Homo sapiens: one gene and its partner. The protein of the gene in region 1 interacts with the protein of each later gene in a biochemical or structural test. Each region holds a gene or a part of one and is shown on either strand. Other genes may lie near its edges. The genes, in order: RAP2A and RGS14.

What was found.
Region 2: the proteins of RAP2A (region 1) and RGS14 form a complex in vitro, tested with the Homo sapiens proteins (one study listed by BioGRID).

The regions. Positions count from the first base shown.
Region 1 is NC_000013.11:97,465,082-97,469,827, forward strand, and holds the end of RAP2A (ras-related protein Rap-2a), read left to right. Parts: 3' UTR 1-4,047; downstream 4,048-4,746. UniProt on the Homo sapiens protein: Small GTP-binding protein which cycles between a GDP-bound inactive and a GTP-bound active form. In its active form interacts with and regulates several effectors including MAP4K4, MINK1 and TNIK.
Region 2 is NC_000005.10:177,360,864-177,368,149, forward strand, and holds part of RGS14 (regulator of G-protein signaling 14), read left to right. Parts: intron 1-2,189; exon of another isoform or gene 2,190-2,261; intron 2,262-5,099; coding exon 5,100-5,121; intron 5,122-5,313; coding exon 5,314-5,492; intron 5,493-5,844; coding exon 5,845-5,937; intron 5,938-6,027; coding exon 6,028-6,171; intron 6,172-6,550; coding exon 6,551-6,694; coding exon of another isoform or gene 6,695-6,850; coding exon 6,851-6,962; intron 6,963-7,286.

The DNA of each region.
Region 1 (4,746 bases):
AGAACAGGTTATGTAAAAATATAGTCTGGCTTTAGAATTTGTTAATTCACCTGCTTTGCCACAGAAAATGGAGGCTTTCACAAGGGTTTGATCAGAATTAAAACCCCAAACCCGCCCTCTGTTAGGGGTGGTCTTTATAACTTTACTGAACAAGAGGGAAGCAACTGTGATGGGAAGAGATTACCTAGCCTTACTAACAAGAAGCATTCTAATAGATAAACTAGTACCATCATGTAAGGAAGATGAAGCCATGTTGCATCCACATGTTCCCGTTTGCAGAAACCTCACAGGACAGTACGAATATCTGGCATTTTTAAGTTCATTAAAGCAGCAAATTCCTTCTCGCCTTTAAGGGCTATGGTTGTAGTGTGACCCGTGGCTAACCTGCTTTCAAAATCAAGTATTTGCTGTAGCAGAGCTTTATTGCAGGCATTTTAAAAATTGAATAACCATGTGAAATAATTTGGGCTTAAAAGTGAACATAAATTATAGAGTGGAAGGTAAGGGACAAAAGCCTTTTACCTTTAATTTTCCTGGAGAATTATATAAAGGTTTTCTTAGAACAATTTTGCCCTGATTACTGAAGCGTCAAATAAAGCTGGAGTGAAAATTTTGTTTTGAAAAGGTGCTCAAGCTCTGACATTTTTGGTTTTCATAGTCGTGAAGTATTTATCATTTGCATGACTAATGGCACAGGAAAAACCTATTCATAAGTTTTACAATCAAGTATAGAGGGGTCTTCAGCTAACTTAGTTATACATAAATGCTGAAAAGATTATCTTGAGCTGGGCCTTGGGAGAAGAATTTGGCCTTCAGAACTGCAATATCACTGAGCCTGCGATCTATACACCACCCCACATTTTGTTGGTTTCACAGTCTTGTGCAAGTAACCTCTGGTCTTACGTGTGTAACTGAGAGAAGAGTGTGTGTTTGTGTGTGCATGTGTGTTTATTGTTCCTAAGAATTTGGCACAAGTCAGAGATAATTGCCTATACTAAGAATCTATACTGCAGAATATAGTGTATCAAAAACTTTTTTCTTTTAAATTATTAAAGTGTCTTTTATACTTTTATGAAATCATTGGTAGCCCCCCAAGTGTTTAATAACTGGCATTAAGCTTAGAGGGTGAAAAAAAAAAAAAAGATTGATAGTATTTTTCATAATGAAAAAACTGAAGAGATACGTGAATGAAACCAGGCCATAGCTGTCATAAATCTTTGACTTTTGAATATTTACATTCTTCAGTATAATTTTTTATAATCCTCAATTATGAACCACCTTGTTTATAGGACAAAAAAATTTAACCAATTTTATTGAAACGAATTTCACTGTGTAAAAGTTGGTTTGATTCAAACATGTAGAGAAGTTGTAGATTCAAGATATATGATTTCTCTATGGAAATAAAAATATTTGTTAGTGAATTGGTTGAGTTTTGATTCCTCTAACTTCTCAGAATGATTCTTTAGAATTCTATAATTCATAGCAATTTTTGACAAGTAAGATTGCAAAATAGAAATATCTATAAAGATTCCACAGTTTGACATTATGGCTTGCTATGCAGATGTGAAAATAGGTTAAATAATATGAAAGATATGGCAGAATGTAAAGTGGAAAAGATGACCTAAAATTTTGAGTTGTATTAATAGTTAAAAACATTTGTGTCAGATGACAGGGTGGGCTTTTACTGTCAAGACATGAATAAGAACTGATCTGGCTGCCTGATGAGTGTTTCCACGCAGCCCTGCATATTTAGTGACCAAGGCATCAAGGACATCCCGAAACTGGAAATTCATATCCATCTGGTATGAATATATAACTCAGCTGGCAAATGAATGTGTTTGTTGAGATATTACAGTAATAAAACACTTAAGAACAGGAAGATTACATTTGTTGGCATACGAAACCTTAGTGGCTACAGAAGAAAGTTGACCTTGTGTCACTATTTATTTTATGCCCTGATCAGACTAGCAACTTAGATAAGTGAAAGTTTTTCTAACATGCCTTAAAAATATTATGGTTTGATCCAAAGACCCACTTTTTCTTTAGCTCTTGTGATAAGATTTTCTTTTTTTTACTTTTATACAAAGGCAGCATCTTTGAATTTTTTTTTCTTTTGATGTTGCAACTTTTGGGTTCTTTTAAACTGTGATAGTGATGGTAACTGATGCCTTTCATTTTGTTCAACTTATACAAAACAAGCCAGCATCTGATCAAAAGTATTACATAAAATATTTTCTTAAACTATTGAAAGGTGCTTTGATGATTTTCTCCTTTGGTTTGTAGAATTAGGACTGAACTTTTGACTCAAATTGCTACAGTTGCCATCACCTTTCTGTGGTAATACTACTGATATTTGCTTTTCTATATAAAGAAATGTTGCCTAAGGCTGTCTGGTATTTCTTTTCAAGGGTTTTCCAGTATGAATGTTAATGTTGTCAGTGTATGTATGAATATGAAAGTGCTTTGTTTTGTTTGTTGCTGTTTTTTGTTTATGTGTGTGTTTTTAATTTTTTTGTTCTTATCAGCAGTCTTGTGTTAGCACTGGGTAAGCTTTAATTGTCCCTTAGCCAATCAAACATTAAGGACTATGGAGGTCTTTTTTTTTTTATTTAACATGTCATTGTTCATCTATTAAATCTTGATCAGGGTTTCAAGAATGACTGCAGTGGGTTTTGGAAACAGACTTATCATTATTGATTTGAGGTTTCCCAGAGATATAGTTCACAGTTAATTGTTGCGCTCTAATACAACTGACCATTTAAAATTGAACAAGTTTATTGTTTTGTAACAATGTCAGTTGTTAAACCTTGACATTTCAATTAAAACATGAATTGTAGTTATAACTCAATGCAAATTCAACAGTTGTATTTGGAGTTAAATTATTTTAACAAATAAATTTATTTAATGAAACTCTGGATTTGCTTTGTTTTGTACATGCTCATGAGAGAAATGTATTATATACAAAAACAATTAAAAATTGCCATATAATGAATTTAGTACTCTTCATACAAAAATATTTTAGCTGATTTGAGAGTTCATCATATAAAAAGGCAGGTAGGTAGATAATTTTCATAGTCTTTAAAAATAAAAATAACATGTAAGAGACTGTAAAATCAGTTATTATAAATATAAACTTATCTCTACAAATGATTTTATATTTTGAATGGTAGCTGGTTAATTTAAAGCCTGATGCTAAGGTTAACAGAATTGTTCAAATAATTAACATTAATTAGCAATATCACTAAAATGATTCAGAGGCCTTCTAGTGATGGCTTGAAGCCGTCTTTCTGTTTTCAGGTCATGTGGATCCGAAGGTGCCAGAAGCTGAAGGTTGCCGCCAGGCTGTAGGGCCTGCTTGTTCTATATGGGGCCCTATGAAAGTTGACAGATGCTGTTAATTGTATACAGCCTTCAGCTGCTCTGATAAGGAGCCCATTCATTTCCTAAGCCAATTTAAACTATGCCTTTTGGTTATGTTGCCTTCAAACTCTGTTGAAATCCTCTGGCAGCATTCCACCAGTTGAGAAGCTTCATTGTTTTAGATTATAAGAATAATTTGAATGAATATAACAGAGGCACTGTAGATAGAATCCCAGATATTTAAAGGAAAACATGCCTATATTTTAGGAATATCTTCTGAAGAACTTCATAATTTTATTTGAAGTGTTTGTAAATTTTTTAATAAATTATTTAAATGTATCAATAGTGGATAGTTGGAAGAACGTCTTTGAGGCTAAAAAGTAGTACTCTGAAATTCTCTCAAGTTATATTATTTGTCTGTTAGAGGTCCACGAATGAAAATATATGTAGCTAAAGGAGTAAGGTGCTGCCCAATTTGGAACCCAACTGACCTCTAGGATCTATGAAGCAGAGAATATTACCACAAACTTCTGAAAGAAGCTGTTGACCTCGTTTCTTAATTTAAAATATGTTGCCACATAAATACTAATAAAACATAGTTGCTCTTCATCTCTTAAATGGATCATTCCAACTGGTTTTACATCGTTGAATATTATCTAGTATTTTTAATAAATATTTTCATAAATAGTTTTTGTGGTTTTTTTGTTTGTTTTTGAGACAGTCTCGCTCTGTCACCCAGGCTGGAGTGCAGTGGTGTGATCTTTGCTCACTGCAAGCTCCCTCCCGGGTTCACACCACTCTCCTGCCTCAGCCTCCCAAGTAGCTGGGACCACAGGTGCCCATCACCATGCCTGGCTAATTTTTTGTATTTTTTAGTAGAGACGGGGTTTCACCATGTTAGCCAGGATGGTCTCGATCTCCTGACCTTGTGATCCTCCCACCTTGGCCTCCCAAAGTGCTGGGATCACAGGCGTGAGCCACCATGCCTGGCCTATAAATAGTTTTTAGATAATATTCAACATCCCCAACATCGAGGTATTGAGTTTTAAAAGATTTGCTGCTATTCTAGGTAAGACGCTGTGTTATTTCTTTCTATATTTTCTTAGTAGTCTTCATGTTAGCCTCTAAGGATTCCTCCAAGATTTCTCAGCAGAGAAAAAGGTAGAGGACTAGCTGCTTGAAAGAGTAAATACGAAGACCTATTTAGTATGTATGAGTTGGGAATAAAACTGAAGGAAAGATTCTTGGTTTAGCTTATGGGGATTTTTTAGTATAAGATCCTCCCATTTTAAAAACTTCAGTATCAATGATTCATATTTACAGTTTTACACTATTTTGAGTGTGATGTGCTTTTATACCTTTAAAAACATCAGGATTAGTGAAGGG
Region 2 (7,286 bases), on another chromosome or scaffold:
GTTCGTGCTACTGCACTCCAGCCTGGCGACAGAGCAAGACTCTCCACTAGCTCCATGCACCGTGTTGTAGGAGACGGTCCCTAAAGGGTCTGCAAGCTGGAGGAGGGAGGGCACGGCATAGGCCTGGCTGTGGGCAAACACAGGGACAGGGCCCTAGGGGAGGCTGAGAGTTAAGCCTGGAGGGGCAGTTAGCCTGTCCTGTCCTGTCAGAGGGCCTAGTTAGTCTTCCCCTCCTGGCAGGAAGACCTGCAAGGCAAAGCCCATGCAGCTCTCTCTTTGTCCCTCGCGTCCAGCTCAGGGCACTCGAGTTCAGGGTGGCCTTATACAGGGGCAAGGCCAGGGGTCATCTCCACAGGCTGGTTCAAGTTGAAGGGACCAGACACCCAGATTCTGTGTGGACATCTCCAGACAGGGTCTTGCAGCCCCTCAAGCTAGGATGAAATCCTCAAGAGGATGGTAGAGGGTGCCCAGCATAGAAGATGCTCAGAAAATTGGCCCTCCTTCAAGGTCTGATCCCTCTAGAGGGCACAGTTCAAGAGGAGCCCCTGAGCAGGTCATGCCAGATTAGACTTGCCCACCTGTGCCCCAAGGGCTGAGGCCCTGGGCCTCCAAGCTTCCTTGGTCCACAAAGGGAGTCAGCTTGGGTAGAGGGTGGGGAGGCCTCAGGCTCCAGAATCAGGCAAACTTGAGTTCTAATCTCAGTTCTGCCACATCTCAGCTGCATGGCTTCTTTGGGCCTCAGTTTCCTCATCTGTAAAATGGGGGTAATAATACCTGCCACACAAGATACCCGTAAAGATGGAGGGAGGACATGAATGTGTGCTGCCAGAGGGTGCCTGCCACACAGTCAAAGCTCAGGAAATTGGGGCCTTACTCTCACCTTAGCATTTTCAGGTGCCAGCAGCTCCCCCAGGACCAAATTCCTAAGAAAAAAATATGACCGGCCGAGGTCCAAGCCTGGGTCCGTGTGTCACTGGCCACCACACCCTTCCTTGCCCTTTCTTCCCCTTTTTCTCCATTCACTCACCACTTCTTCTCAAGCAGGCTGAAGCAGGGGAGGCCAGCCCTGCTCAACACAACTTCCCCAGGCCCTGCAGTGGCAGCCAGGGCAGGCCAGAGCCCCTGCAGGGCCCCTGCACACCTGCACCTCACTCCGCTGTGGGGTGCTGCTCTGATTGTGGCATGCCTGGTGCTTTCACTCATGGGGCCTCATTCAAGCTTCACAGCAGCCTCAGGAAATTGGGAGTGCTGAGCCCCATGCTACCCAGGGAAAACTGAAGCTCAGAGAAGTTACTTGTTCCCGAATAGCAGAGCTGGAATTGGATTCCACCCCCACTCCCACCCATCTCCAGATTTCTGTCCCTACTCAATTTCAGCTCCAGCTATGCTATCAACAACTGTCAGGGCAAGAGAGGCTCAGGATGGAGAGCTACAGGTGGCATTCAGGGGCTGAGAGTCCCTAGTGAAGGGGTGCCAAGGCCAGGGTCCTGATGGCTGCTTGGGAGCACGAGGCAAAGACGGTGCTTCTTGAGGAGGGAGTTCAGATCTGACCCCTCCCACCAACCAGGCCAGCACTCCAGGGGTGACCAGACTGGCAGGGAGAGAGGCCGGGACATGGGTGGATAAGCACGTGGTGGGAAGGGGCATTCAAGGGGCCTGGTGTTTGGGGACGACTAATGTCAACGGGCAGAGATCGGGGAGCAATTCCAAGCGAAGAGCAGGAGCAGATACCCAGGCACTGGCAATGGCAAAGCCGGAAGCAGGGGTGTGGGGAAAATAGAAAAGTTCGGTGAAGTGTAGGGTGGAGGTGAGGGGGAGGAAAATGGGTGAGGCTGAAGGGGGTTCATTAGTCAGGCCCAGGTAGGGTTTTAGCCGTAACCTGGCAACCGCAACGTGCCTCCGGGGGCAGGGAAAGGGCCCGGGTTGGCACCGTGGGGAGGGGTGGGGCCTGGGGAGGATCTAGCAGGCAGCCCCACTTAACGACATTCAGTTAAGCAGAACGTGGAAAATAAACCTGTGAGGGCCAAACAAAATTGAAGTGCTGGCTGGCGCCAGCTCCAGCGCCTATCACCCCTGACTCGGGGTTAGAGGGCAGGACAGAGGCTCAGGGTGTGCGCGAGGAGGGCAGGGCCAAGCAGCCCAGCGGAGGGGGGCGAGTCCGGGTGATTCTCGGGGATCTGGGGGAGGGCGATGACTGCGTCTCCGAGGCTGGGAACACCGTGGCGGTGCAGCCGGGGGAGGAGGAGCCCGGGCGCGGGCAGGTAGGTGCAGGCTGCAGAGGAACCTTGCGGCCGCGCAGGGAAAGGCTTCGTCCCGTCCCTCCTCGCAGCCCTCTGCCGCCCTCGGAGTGGGGACTTTCTCCTGTCGCCGTGGGAAGCACCGACTTTCGTTGGGGGATTTGACTCTGCGGGGAGGACAGAGCGGGGAGCACGAGAGCAGGGCCAGGAGGGGCGGGGCCGGAGACGGGGGCGGGGCGCGCTGGGCCCGACGCCCCGCCCAGCGCGCTCTGCACTAACTCGCTGCCCTCCACTGCAACTTCTTATTCCCGGGCTCCAGATGGGAAGCGAAGCTCAGGGAGGAGCCCGAAGTTGTAAAACTGGAAAAAGTCAGGGCTGGGGTTTGAATCTGGATCTGAGAGACGCCCCCCGCCCCCAACACCTGTGCTCTTTCCTTCTATGGCGGGAGTGGCAAACTCGAATGTGTAGCGGGGTCAGGCATCAACACTGACACAAGAACGACATTAATAGTAACGTTCCTTGAACATTTACTACACGCCCGATAGTGTTCTGAGTTCTTTATATATATTTCACTCATTTAATCGCACCAATCCTTCGAAGTCAGGACCATTATTTGCTCCATTTTTAGAGAGGAAAAAACTGAGGCACAGAGAGGTTAAGTACCTCGTCCAAAGTCACACAGCACAAATTTGACCTCCCAAATTTGAGCCTGCCTCCCACTGCCTCCACAAGTAACATAAATGCATTAAACTGGCCCCAGAGGCCTCTGAGAGGAGTGTAAGCCCTTTTGGGGAAGGTGGTGGCTGCTCAATCCCGGACAAGGTTGTCCTGCTGGGAAGGAGCTGGAGCATTACAGTCTCACGGAGCAAGTGGAATTTAAAATCTCTTGCTTTTTAAATGTGGAAAATACCTTTAAATAAAAATAATAATCATCATAATAAAACCTGAGAGGGCCAAGGTAATAGTAATTTCCCACATATCTGCAGACCGGATCTGGCCCACAGATGGCCGCCCTGTGACCTGAATACTCTCAGGGTGGGAGTAGGAAACAGAGAGGAAGGTTCCATTCAGGAGGGTGGGGGTTGGGGGGCTTTCCGGGGTGGAGATGTTTGCAGGCCTGTTTCCAGTTGGGATGGGAATAAGGGGCTGGTGGTAGGAACTTCTGTGACAGGGCATGGTGAAAGTGTAGGAGGTAAGCGGGAAGTAGGAACTGGGGATGACTCAAGCCCTGATGTTGGAAGCCCGGGTGATGGGAAGAAAGATGGGGGCAGGGAAGCTGGTTTGGTACTGTGTTTTGGTGGAGGCAGAGGGAGCTTCCATTTGGGACTTCCATTTGGGAGCTTGAGGGCTTGTGGGACATTTGAGGGGGGACTCGCCCCCCTCCGCTGGGCTGCCTGGCCCTGCCCTCCTCGCGCACACCCTGAGCCTCTGTCCTGCCCTCTAACCCCAAGTCAGGGGTGATAGGCGCTGGAGCCGTTACCAGGAAGTTGGTTATGTGTGTCTGGAGCTGTGGATCTGTGGATGGGACAAAGTGCCCAGGACAGAGCCAGAGAGGGGTTGAGGCCACATTGCATGAGTGGGAGATAGTGGGGAAGCTGGAGGAGCTGCTAGGAAGGTAAAAAGAGAAACAAGAGAAACCACCGCAAGAGTCATTTTGAGAGGAGAGTTTTTCTGTTTCACTAATGATTGGGATTCCCAGAGAAACCAGAGTTGTGCACTGGGGGCAAGGATGGAGTTAGTTACTGCAGCAGTACTACTCACAGAGTAGTCCCTGAACCAGCAGCATCAGCATCGCCTGGGAGCTTGGTAGAAATGGACAGCCTCAGGCCCCATCTTGGACCTACTGAACCTGAATCTCCAGAGGTGGGGTCCTCCCACTCTGCACTGAAGTTTGAGAACCACTGCTCTGTACTATAGACCAGCATCTTGTGCCCTCCCACGGTGGTAATGGGACCCTGGGCCCAATAGGCAACACGTGCGATAGTAAGATCACTGGCTGCAGAGACACCTCTCCTTCCTCAAAGACAGCACATGTTTATACAGCCCATATCACATGCTGGCCCATGTTCTAGATGCTGTGGATATATTTTTATTTGATTTTCTTTTATTGAGACGGAGCTTTGCTCTTGTCACCCGGGCTGGAGGGCAATGCCACAATCTCAGCTCACTGCAACCTCTGCCTCCTGGGTTCAAGCGATTCTCCTGCCTCAGCCTCCCGAGTAGCTGGGATTACAGGCATCCACAACCACATCCAGCTAATTTTTTTTTTTTTTTGTATTTTTAGTAGAGACTGGGTTTCACCATGTTGGCCAGGCTGGTCTCGAACTCCTGACCTCAGGTGATCCACCCATCTCGGCCTCCCAAAGTGCTGGGATTACAGGCGTGAGCCACCGTGTCCAGCCAATGCTGTGAATATATTAAACTGACTTGATCTTTACATCAAGATGGAAGCAAATGGTTTGCCTCCATTTGTAAATAGGCATTATCTCCTATTTACAGATTACAGATGGAGGCAAACAAGTTAACTAACTTGCCCAAAGTTACACAGCTAGTAAGTGGCAGAGACTAAAGTCTGTTCCTACCCACCATGCTATGCACACCTGGCTCACCCAGCAGGGGCTGGGGGAGGAGGGAACCAGGGGCTGCTGGAAGGTACCTGCCATAAGTCCCAGTACTTAGTGGTTGGCACAGGATGGAAGGGGAGCCAGGGGCAGACTGAGGAAAACCCTGACCAAGTAGAACCTGGCCGGGGATGCCCAGGTGGAGGAGAACGCAGTTCCAGCTCCTGGGAGTCGGGCCCAGAACTGTCCCCTGGGAATCCTCACTGGGCTCTTCTGACTTTCTCTGTTGGGTCTCTTATAGGTTCTGGCTGTGTCAGATGGAGGTAAGTGACAGAATGTGTGGAGAACTGGCTGAGTGGGAGGGAGGAGGGAGGTGGAGATGGGTGGGGACACCCCTGCCACCTGCTATCTTTCCAGGGAACATGGCTGCAGAGTGGATGCATGGGGGAGGGTGGGTTGTGCCAGGGGCTGGGGAAGGCAGCAAGGCTCACCCCAACTTGTCCATCCCCCTGCAGAGCTGAGCAGCACGACGGGGCCCCAGGGCCAGGGCGAGGGCCGCGGCAGCTCTCTCAGCATCCACAGCCTCCCCAGTGGTCCCAGCAGCCCCTTCCCAACCGAGGAGCAGCCTGTGGCCAGCTGGGCCCTGTCCTTCGAGCGGCTGTTGCAGGACCCGCTGGGCCTGGCTTACTTCACTGTAAGCCTGGGGTAGGGAAAGGGAAGGGGGGACACGGGAGAGGGCAGGGCGTGGATGGAGCTTCAGGCTGGCCAGAGTGGGGTCCTCTGTCAGCTTCCTCATCTAGCCTTCCTGCAGCACCCTCTTCCTCTTCTCCCAGCTGGGAACTTTTCTTCCTTCTCCCTGTCCTTGTCTCTGCCTCTCATTTTCTCTCCCTGTCTTCAGATCGGTCTGGCTCCGTCTGTCTGTCTGGCCCTGTCTGTCTGGCTTGGTCTCTTGGCCCTGTCTCTGTCCCAATCTTTTTGATCACATCCCCCAGTTTGGTCTCTGTGTCTCTGAGTCTCTGCCTGCCTCCCCCTCCTTCCCCTCCCAGGAGTTCCTGAAGAAGGAGTTCAGCGCGGAAAACGTGACTTTCTGGAAGGCCTGCGAGCGCTTCCAGCAGATCCCGGCCAGCGATACCCAGCAGGTGGGGGAAGGGGGAGCTGGGGCCGAGGGCTGGGGAGAGGGGAACTGGGCCACGCTCCCTGACCAACTCCTCCTGTCCCTCCTCCTTCAGCTAGCTCAGGAGGCCCGCAACATCTACCAGGAGTTCCTGTCCAGCCAGGCGCTGAGCCCAGTGAACATCGACCGTCAGGCCTGGCTTGGCGAGGAGGTGCTGGCCGAGCCCCGGCCGGACATGTTTCGGGCACAGCAGCTTCAGGTGGGCGATCCTGGGGGGATTGGCCTTGAAAGGGAGACAAAAGGAGCAGGGGCGGGGTCGGACCCTGGCGGGGAGTCTGAACTACAAAGCGGAGGGGGCAAATTTGGAGGCGGAGACAGAGCCAAATGCCGGGGCAGGCAGGGCGGAGCTCAGAGGGCGGTATCAGAGGCACGGGGAAGGACAGTTAGAGGCGGAGCCTAGCTGAGCTCGGGGCGGGCTTGGACCCCGGGGGTGGGTATAGGAACTGAGGTCGGGGCGGGGCTTGGGAAATCCAGCCCTAGGTTTGGGGCGGGGCCAGCCCCAAGGACCCGGCCTGGGTGCAGGCAGCCCAGCGCCCCCACCCCAGCCCCGGCTCACCTGTTCCGGGGTCGCCCCGCAGATCTTCAACTTGATGAAGTTCGACAGCTATGCGCGCTTCGTCAAGTCCCCGCTGTACCGCGAGTGCCTGCTAGCCGAAGCCGAGGGACGCCCTCTGCGGGAACCTGGCTCCTCGCGCCTCGGCAGCCCTGACGCCACGAGGAAGGTGCGTGGGACTGGGCGAGGGACTGGGCGAGGCAGGGGGTCCTGCGGACCGCGTGCAAGAGGGGACGCCTCCGGGTGCAGATCTGCGAGTCTGTGCCCACGGTCTGCATGCGGGCTGGGGCCCAGCCCGGTGCCAGCGCCTCCCCTGTACCCACAGAAGCCGAAGCTGAAGCCCGGGAAGTCGCTGCCGCTGGGTGTGGAGGAGTTGGGGCAGCTGCCACCCGTTGAGGGTCCTGGGGGCCGCCCTCTCCGCAAGTCCTTCCGCCGGGGTGAGGGCAGGAGCGAGCAACAGAGATGTGGGGAAGGCGGGAGTTTGGTTAAATTTGGGGAGTGCCCCCTTCCTCCTACGTGGCCCACAGTCTGTAAGTCTGTGAAAATTGAAACCCAGGTCCCAGTGACCACCACACTCCCCTGGGTGGTTCGGGTCTTGGGCTAGACCTCAGACGTTTGGAAATCTCCAACGGTGGTGTCGCTCCCAGGGATTTACACCTGGGCCCCTGCAGGATGGCTCCAAACAAGGCCCACCAGTGGGGAACAGGCTTCCGCAGAGGATGGGTGAGGGCGGGGGGCTGTTCGCGTTCATCGCTCCCTCT